Regions from separate parts of the Homo sapiens genome. Here region 1 is linked to region 2. The links come from fine-mapping of genetic effects on gene expression. A gene starts in region 2. The other region holds a variant in brackets. All regions are shown on one strand. Distances are from middle to middle. Region 1 overlaps ARHGAP31 (Rho GTPase activating protein 31). Region 2 holds the start of POGLUT1 (protein O-glucosyltransferase 1).

The links. PIP is the estimated chance that this variant, and not a neighbour inherited with it, causes the effect.
Region 1: its variant is fine-mapped to the expression of POGLUT1 in whole blood (INTERVAL, PIP above 0.99).

The regions. Positions count from the first base shown.
Region 1 is chr3:119,418,950-119,423,276 of GRCh38, reverse strand. It overlaps ARHGAP31 (Rho GTPase activating protein 31), which reads right to left. Exons shown (of 12, transcript NM_020754.4): 12 at 2,563-4,327. Among named protein-coding and RNA genes, the nearest start is that of TMEM39A, 43 kb to the left of the region's middle. The variant T/C (reference allele first, on the strand shown) is at 2,356.
Region 2 is chr3:119,466,688-119,471,086 of GRCh38, reverse strand. POGLUT1 (protein O-glucosyltransferase 1) reads right to left here and starts at 2,124. Exons shown (of 11, transcript NM_152305.3): 1 at 1,981-2,124; 2 at 1,177-1,267. The coding sequence starts at 2,065. RefSeq lists a silencer at 1,848-2,047 and enhancers at 2,098-2,267, 1,960-2,460.

The sequences.
Region 1 (4,327 bases), 48 kb after region 2:
GTTTCAAAAGAGGAATGATCAATAGGATCACATATAACAGGGAAGTCTAGAGACTGAGAAGTGAATGTTGGATTTGGATATTAGACTATTGGTGACGTTAGCAAGAGAAATTTTAGCGGAGCTATGCGGGCCGAGGTCAGGCTGCCATTGGTCCAGAATAGTGAATTGTAATGAAGAAGTAGAAATTGAGCATTGATGACACTGATGACTCTTCCAAGAACCTAGACACAAGGTGATAAAAGTGGACAGAATTGAGGAAGACTTTTGTTTAAGATAGAATAGGCTTTGGCATGTTTATATGCTGAGGGATTAAAGATCAAAGAGGGCAAGGCTCAATACATAGGGAAGAATAGTGGATTACAGGAGACTGGGAACACAGAAGCCTGGGAGCTCTTGGAAAGAGGGGTAACACTTCCTCTGAACTAGAAGGGAGGTTAGGTACACACATATACAGGTAAGGGGAAATAGCAGTGGGAGCTTGAATAAAGATGTCTGATATTATAAACTTATGAAGCAATAACAATTATTTGTGGGGAAGAAAGAGTTGTCTAGGAGAGAGTCAAGAATAGTGGAATAGCCATTGTGGGTTGTGGAATAGCCATTGAAGATTTTGGAAATGAGGCTGCTCTTGGGGTGGTGGACCACAAATATCTAAAAGCTTTTATATTGTGGTTTTATTATTTTCTCTGATCTAACCCATAGACACAGTTAAAGGGCAGAGATGTGTGATAAGAGTCCAGATTCCAGGTTGGAGGTTTGTCAAGCAGGTGTGGCTAAAGGACTAGTGGTTAAGGGAGTTAATGGTCCTGGTGAGAACAGTGGGGATGATGCACCTTAAGTCTGGAAAGGCTAGGGAAGGAATTATGAAGTGTGGTGGGAGTGCTGTCTATCAGAGGAGGTTGTGGGGGCAGGCATGGTAATCTTGCACAAATACAAGGAATAAAGTAGTAAGGCTAGAGAAAGTTCTGAAAAAGGAAAATGAGAATTTAGGATCACAAAATTCTCTATTGTGAAATAGCCTGATGTGTAACCCTAGAAGCAAATGTTCAAAACTGAGTAGAGGGAAAAAGCTGTAAGCAATTATGGCAAGGGTATTGGGTGGGCTTTCCTCTATAAGCAATTATGGCAAGGGTATTGGGTGGGCTTTCCTCTAGAACACTGAAGTCATCCAGGATGATGGTGGGACATGAGGTAGAAGGAAACAGGGAGATTGGTACCCAAGACTGGGGAATCTGGGACATTAACTATAACCATGGCCACAAATGATAAAAGTTAAAATAGTTGGATCCATACATTTTGGTAATGAGGGATTTTTGTATGGGATGGGAAGAAACAATGGTGCAGAAGTAGAAGTGAGGACCTGGGAGAACATCCTCTGACCGTTCGTACAAGTCTGCATAATATGGGCGCATGGGCACATGTTCAGCCTTTTGTGGAGGGAAGGAAGTGTTCTCACACGAGTTTTCTTGAAGTCCAGGAAGTGGCAACAACATTCAGTGAAGAGACTGGGACTGCAGGGGAGTTTATAAGGAGAAAGTGACTCCAGAGAACATGGGAAAGACTGGAAGTGAGGGGAACTGTGTGTTGGACTGGGGTTGGGGGAAGTTCAGGAGAAAAACCAAAGAGTGTGCGGATCGGGGAGTATATAGGAGAAAAAGGCATTTAGGGCAGTAGTGAAGGATAGCAGGAGCAGGCCTGAGTAGTGTAAGGTTCTAAATAGAAAGTTGTTGCCAAAATGGTAGTGTTTTCTTCCCCTTGGCAATGAAAGGGGAAATATCACTACAAATGTTTCACTGCAAATATCACTAGGTTGTGAACCTAGGTTGTAGGATTGTTCACCTCCCCCTCCCCACCTTTGTGGTCATATATATAACAGGATATATGCCAGGACAACAAATGTTTGCCTTTCCCCCTAGAGCATCATTAACATAATTACTCAAATAAAAGAAGAGTCCCCTTTGATTGATTCAAGTAATAGAAAAGTTGAGTTCACATCTGTGCAGGTGGACCCATGTGCCTCCATAAGCTGTGGAGTTTTGAGAAGCAATGAGCTTTTATTCTTCTCATTTTTCATTATGATAGCCTGGACTTACGCGGGGTTTCCTGAGTGACATGACTATGTGTCTGCAACAGTAAAAGGGTGAAGTTGCAGACATCTGGCAATTATTAGTACGTAAAATAACAAAAACAAGAAAAATATACTGAAGCAAATCATCACGGACTTTTTCTGTGAGATCAAACATTGAAGTAACAAAAAATGACATCAAACAGAACAAACTAAAACAATGAACCTGGTGCATATAATCTACTTTTCTGATTATTGATTTTGGTGACCCCATGTCCTCCTCTAGCTCA[T/C]AGTTCCATCATAAGCATTATATTTTATATCATTTATTAGAGTATTTATTTTTAAAGCATAAAAATCTGTTTTAATTACTTAAATGTCTCTATGGATAGTTTTAATATTTATATTTGTAATGAATAGAATTACATCTTGATTATGTCTTTGGAAACGTATTTGTAGAGCTTAAAACACAGCTGAAATCATGTGGCTTTCCAATAGACTCCTTTGAAAAAGTGCTTTACTTTGCAGAATTATAAGCCAGAAAGTACTATGACATTAAGTTATTGCAAAGCATTGTGATTTATCCAGTAAAATACATGGCTATGGACCTTGTAAGCTTCTTATATTTAGCTACGTCCCCCTTACCCTCACAGAAAAGTAATCTCTGCATTATTAATGTACCTCAAGATTACTAAATGATCTACACAGTAGCCAGCCAATCTGTGGTGGCCCCCAATTTTATGCTATCTGTACTGGCACTGATTTCAGGCAATCACCCTTCCACCATTGCCCCCTCCTCTCCATGCTTGGAAAGATGCTTGCTCCCTCTTCTGGCCTTGTTTTGCTAGGAAAGGTTTTGGTAGTAGAGCACATATTCTTTGTCATGCCACATTTTGAGCTGACCTTCCTGCCAGACATGTCTAAAATCATAGTCTTAGCAACACTTAACCCCAATTCATGTGGTCATCAGATTGGACTGGCCGTGGTAGAATGTGGCCCAAATAAATCCTGGTGGGACTGGACTTACTGAGAACTTCTCCCACTCTAATACTGGACAAAATAATTGTATGCTCCCCAGTATCTCTTCATGCAGGAATGGAAGGCCTGTGTAGACAAATGACTGTCCCATCCAATTTTAGCCAAATGTGATTATCATATGCCAAACACTGACAAGAACAATTTATCTTGAATTGAACAGTTTATCTTGGGCCTACTGCTTCATCATTAACTAGGAGTTAATCTGCTTTGTGATGACAGAAGTCTCTAAAATCCCCTTTTCAAGCACTATGGAATACTGATCTTACCTGGCTCATTTGCAGAGATCTCACACTTCACCAAACCAATTATGACCACACGAAACCTCCGAACCTAGTTGCCACTATTCTAGCCTAGTTGCCACTTTCCAGTTTTCTAAATCAAGCAAAGTTCTCAAATACCCGAGTGTCTCACTGGGATGTTCTATTGGATTTGCAATTGTGTTCAATTTGATTATTTGGAGTCAGTAGGTCACTTGAATACCGTCAACTATCCTATTAAAAGATGCTTGTTGCCACACTTTTTCCCCTTCTGCTTTTGTTTGGCAACTTAATGGTTCTCAACCTTGCTCCTGGTTGTTTATGGGGGTGTTTTATTTGCTGCCATCCCTCCCCCTTTTTCACTAGACTCTTGAATGATTTGGGAGTGCTAAGGTACCCAGTGCACTATTACTAAGCTCCCAATAAATATTTGCTAAGGATGATGATATTTACATTTTTAATGTCCTCAGAGTCTAGACTTTTGACTTGGACAATATTTTGAATTTTAGGGTTTAGATTAGGTTAGGTGTCTTAATGGGGTTCTTGTTCAGATTTCTTCATATTCCAAGTGTAGCAGAAAATATAGGTTACTATTTTCTTAAGCAACCACTAATGCTGAAAGAAAACGTCAGTACATGCATGCGTTTCACTGCAAATCCATCATTTAACATCAGCAACCCCCATTTTGAGGACTGATAGCTGATTTGAAGGAGCCCTTGAGAATTTGATTGCATAGCCCTTTCTAGGGCACCAGGTAAATCCTCCTAAACACAGCAGCTCCTGTTCTGTCCCTCTCCTGAATGGAAGCAGACTATCTGATTCCCATCCAGCCATTCTCAGGGAGTTCATTTTTCGGAGACTCAAATGAGTGGTGAAATAGGTAATCCCAGAGCATTTGGGGGAACAATTTGTGGGGGGGAGGAATATGAGTTTTCTTTCTTTAGAATGGAATTTCATCAGTGCCAGGCTA
Region 2 (4,399 bases):
CCTCCTTCCATCTGGATTGCCCCTCCCTTGGCAGTTCTGTATTTCTCTTTCGCTACTCATGCCACACCTGTGTCCTTCTAGTCACTTCAGTCCTCCTGGCATCTCCTCCCAATCCCACAGGAGGTGAAGTTTACGCCTTACAGTCTAGCACTGACTCTCTTGTTCTGGTCTGTCTGGTCCACACTCTCCCCCACAAGCCCTTACTCTGGTAGCGTGACAGCAGTAACCAAAATTACACTATTTTGTATTCCTTTTAAAGTGAGTGCATAGTAAGTTTTCAATAAGTATCATAAGCATCCAAGGAATTTTTTGAGGAGTCAAAAATAACATAAAAAGGAGCTTAAAAGACCCTGTTATTTAGCTGATGAAGAATCTGAGACCCAGAGGAGTTGAAGTGGCTCGGCACAGGGGTAACCAGTGGGAGTACCGGCACCAACACCCAAGTCTGTTTTCAGAGTTATCTTTCTACCATACCTCATCCCGGCCCTGATGTGCATTCTCTCTCTTTTTTGAGACGGAGTCTCACTCTGTCACCCAGGCTGGGGTGCAGTGGCATGATCTGGATTCAATGCAACCTCTGCTTCCCGGGTTCAAGCGATTCTCCTGCCTCAGCCTCCCGAGTAGCTGGGATTACAGGCACGTGCCATCATGCCCAGCTAATTTTTGTATTTTTAGTAGAGACAGGGTTTCACCATGTTGGCCAGGCTGGTCTCGAAATTCTGACCTCAGGTGATCCACCTGCCTTGGCCTCTCAAAGTGCTGGGATTACAGGCATGAACCACCATGCCCAGCCTGATGTGCATTTTCTAAAGATAACCATCAGGAAATTTAGGACTAGATTCAGCGATAGATGGGTTTATTTCCTCAACAATATTTATCGAGCACGCACTGACAGCTAGCACCAGGGAGACAACAGCAAATAAGACACAGACCCTGACCTCAGGAAGCTTGCAGCCCAGTGGGAAAAACAGATGCACATGCACTGAATCCCGCAGTGAGTCAGTGGTTAGGTTGACACCACCTGAGCCTTTCCCATGCGAGAGCATTTTTATTCCCCAGAAATAGAAAAACATCCTTGCCTTTCTGACCACTGCAACCAAAATCTCTCAAGGATGTTAGAATACTTCCTGTGACAGCAACTAAACTCTCAAAGACACATCAAAGAAAAGAACTCACCCATGGTAGCAGCTGCAGTTTTGACTTGAACATGGTTCGTAATTCTCCAAAGACCTGTTAATTTGGTCAATAAATACTTTCCATTTTGAACCTTTAAAAAGTGAAGTAAATGAGAGTTAAAAAAATTTTCCTGAATGTTATTTGCTGACACCACACCAACAGAAGAAACAGAAGACCAAAACTTTCAGAAATCCCCTTCCCATCCCACTGATGGAAACGAAACGCTAGGGAGGAATTTTTGTGTGTGCAACTCCCACGCTCACGTCAAGTCTGTTCCTCTATCCGGCTGTCAGGTGTCCAAGAAACTGGAAAATTCCCAAGCTTAATGCTCAACCCTCAGAATGCTATGGATAGTGACGCGGACTCTCACTTTCTACTAATCAAATTGAACTCCACAAAGAGGATCAGTTAAAAGCTACAGACATTAAACCCCTCTTCTCTTCTGGCAACGCATATACACACACGCTCGCGCGCACGACATTTGCCCCCATCCCCGACCCCTCAGTGTTTCAGGCAGGTCCAGAGTAGCCAAGCACGGGCCACGCCTCCTGCGGGTGAACGGGGAATTCCCTCTCCTCCCTGTCATTCTGAATTCCGGGGAATGGGTTACTCTCCAGGGTCCAGAGCAGGAGCAGAGACCCCGGCACCTCACTCTCCGCCGCAAGGCGCCCCGGTGCCTTCTGCCCAGCTCCGAGCTACAGCGGCCACGGCATCTTCCCGGGAGCCGGCCGCGCGGGGGAGCGCCTCGGGACTCCGGCCAGACCCCGAGCCCAAGGGGCAGGCTCGGCACTGCCCGGAGCCCACCTGACTCCTTCTGGCGGCCCTGCGCTGAGGGCAGGAGGAACAACAGCAGCCAGAGCCGAAGCGGCGAGCTAGCCCACCACTCCATCGCCGGCAGACCTACTGCAGATTCCCCGCTGCGGCGCTGGCGGAAGCGCGGCCCCGCACAAAGATGGCCCGGGAGCCGCAGCACGTGGGCGGCGGGTCGCCCCGCACAAAGATGGCCACCGTGGCCCCACCACCCTTCCTCCAGTCCCCAGCCTTGAGGCGGAGTTTCCCTGAGAAGGCTGCGCCGGGAAGGTGGGGAGGATAAACGAATGGACCAGTTGCCTATCCTCCCTCCCTGGCACCCCTGGGAAAATAGGTCTGCAGCCAGAAAACTGAAGGTCAGAGAGGGTATGTTTCACGGTTAGTGGCACAACCAAGACTTGGCATAGAGCCTAGGCCAAACAGTTCTTCTCTTGACGTCAAATTGCCTCTTATCAAATAGCATAAATTTGTTGAGCATGTGTGTGTGTGTGTGTGTGTGTGTGTGTGTGTGTGTACAGCACGGTTAGACCCCAAAGGTTGCAATTAGCATAGCAGGGATCCCTTTGTAATAGGAATTTATAACAGTTGGGGTGACTTAGACGTAGGAAAAAAGATCAATGGTGTTAAATAAAGTTTATGGGAGGTCGTTGTTTTGGACAGAACTCTGGCACTAGGCCTCAAGAGAGCAGACAAAACCAGAATGGAGGCAACTTGTCCTAGGTGCTGCGTAATTAAACTCAGCTTTAAAAGGGGTCAGTTTTCCAACAAATAGGAGAAGGGGCCCATATACCTGAGCTGGCATGATAAAGAAGTCCCCTCTGATGTAACTCTTTGAGGAAAGTAACTTCAAAATGACCAATCTGCTTTTTGTTCCTTATTTCTGCTTTCTTCAGCCCTTTTCTGCCTATAAGCCCAACCCCTTCTGCTCAGCTCATTAGAACACTTTTCTGTTTTATAGATGAGATGCTGCCTGATTCATGAATCACTAATAAAAGCCAATTCGATTTTTTTTTTTTTTTGAGACAGAGGACAGTCTAACTCTGTTGCCCAGCCTGGAGTGCAGTGGCACAATCTTGGCTCACTATGACGTCTGCCTCCCGGGTTCAAGCAATTCTTCTGTCTCAGTCTCCCGAGTAGCTGGGATTACAGGAGTGTGTCACCATGCCCGGGTAATTTTTGTATTTTTAGTAAAGACAGGGTTTCACCGTGTTGGCCAGGTTGGTCTCAAACTCCTGACCTCAGGTGATCTGCCCACCTCGGCCTCCCAAAGTGCTGGGATTACAGGCGTGAGCCACCATGCCTGGCCAAGAACTTTAAACTAAATTTGATGAAATTTTGTTTCTTGACAGTGGGCAACATGATACTGGACAATATAGGTATATAGTATAGTACAGGTATATATCTTTATACAGGTATATATAGGTCAGTGTAGATATATTTAGTAATCATAGAACTACAAATATTTATCTATTTTCTTTTTTTTTTTTTTTTTTGAGATGGAGTTTCGCTCTTGTTGCCCAGGCTGGAGTGCAATGGTTCAATATCGGCTCACCACAACCTCCGCCTCCTGGGTTCAAGCAATTCTCCTGCCTCAGCCTCCTGAGTAGGTGGATTACAGGCTTGCGCCACCACACCCGGCTAATTTTGTATTTTTAGTAGAGATGGGGTTTCTCCATATTTGTCAGGCTGGTCTCGAACTCCCGACCTCCGGTGATCCACCAGCCTCGACCTCCCAAAGTGCTGGGATTGCAGGCGTGAGCCACTGCGCCCAGCAATATTTATCTATTTTCTAAAATGTACATGGTTATATCCCTAAGCCTTGTGGAAATATGGAAATACAGGGAAGTACAAGATCAAATCTGTGCTCCCAGGAGTTTAGAACTAGTAGGGAAGACAAATATGCTTCCTTAGAGATAGTTTACAATTTAAGGCAATAGTTAAGTGCCACTGGTTTCAGTGGAGGAAAAGATCAATATGAAGTGGAAATCTGGAGAAAGGGGTAGGAGGGGTATATTTTGTACTGAAGAAAAGGAAACGTTACAGTTAAGGAATATTGTGCTGGAGTCACTAAAAATATGGGAGCCATAATTTGCAGAAGGTGGGGATCAAATTTAGCTTGACAGTAGTGGAGGCTTTAGGATGCACGTTAAGGAATGGTGGAAGAGAAAATAATGTTGATTACCTAGGAATGGGCCGTATCGGTCACATATTACACCCATATGGGCATTTGGTCTATATTCCACCAGGGCAGAACCACCCAGTTTTTGTATGAGTGAGGCTCACTTTGGGTGAACAGACAGGAAAAAAAATGTATATCCAAAACTATAGCATATTTCTTCTGGAATCCAAATGAAACTTTAGTCAAAAATTTTTCTACTTCCAGGAAGGTGTGCAGTACAGTCATGTGTTGTTT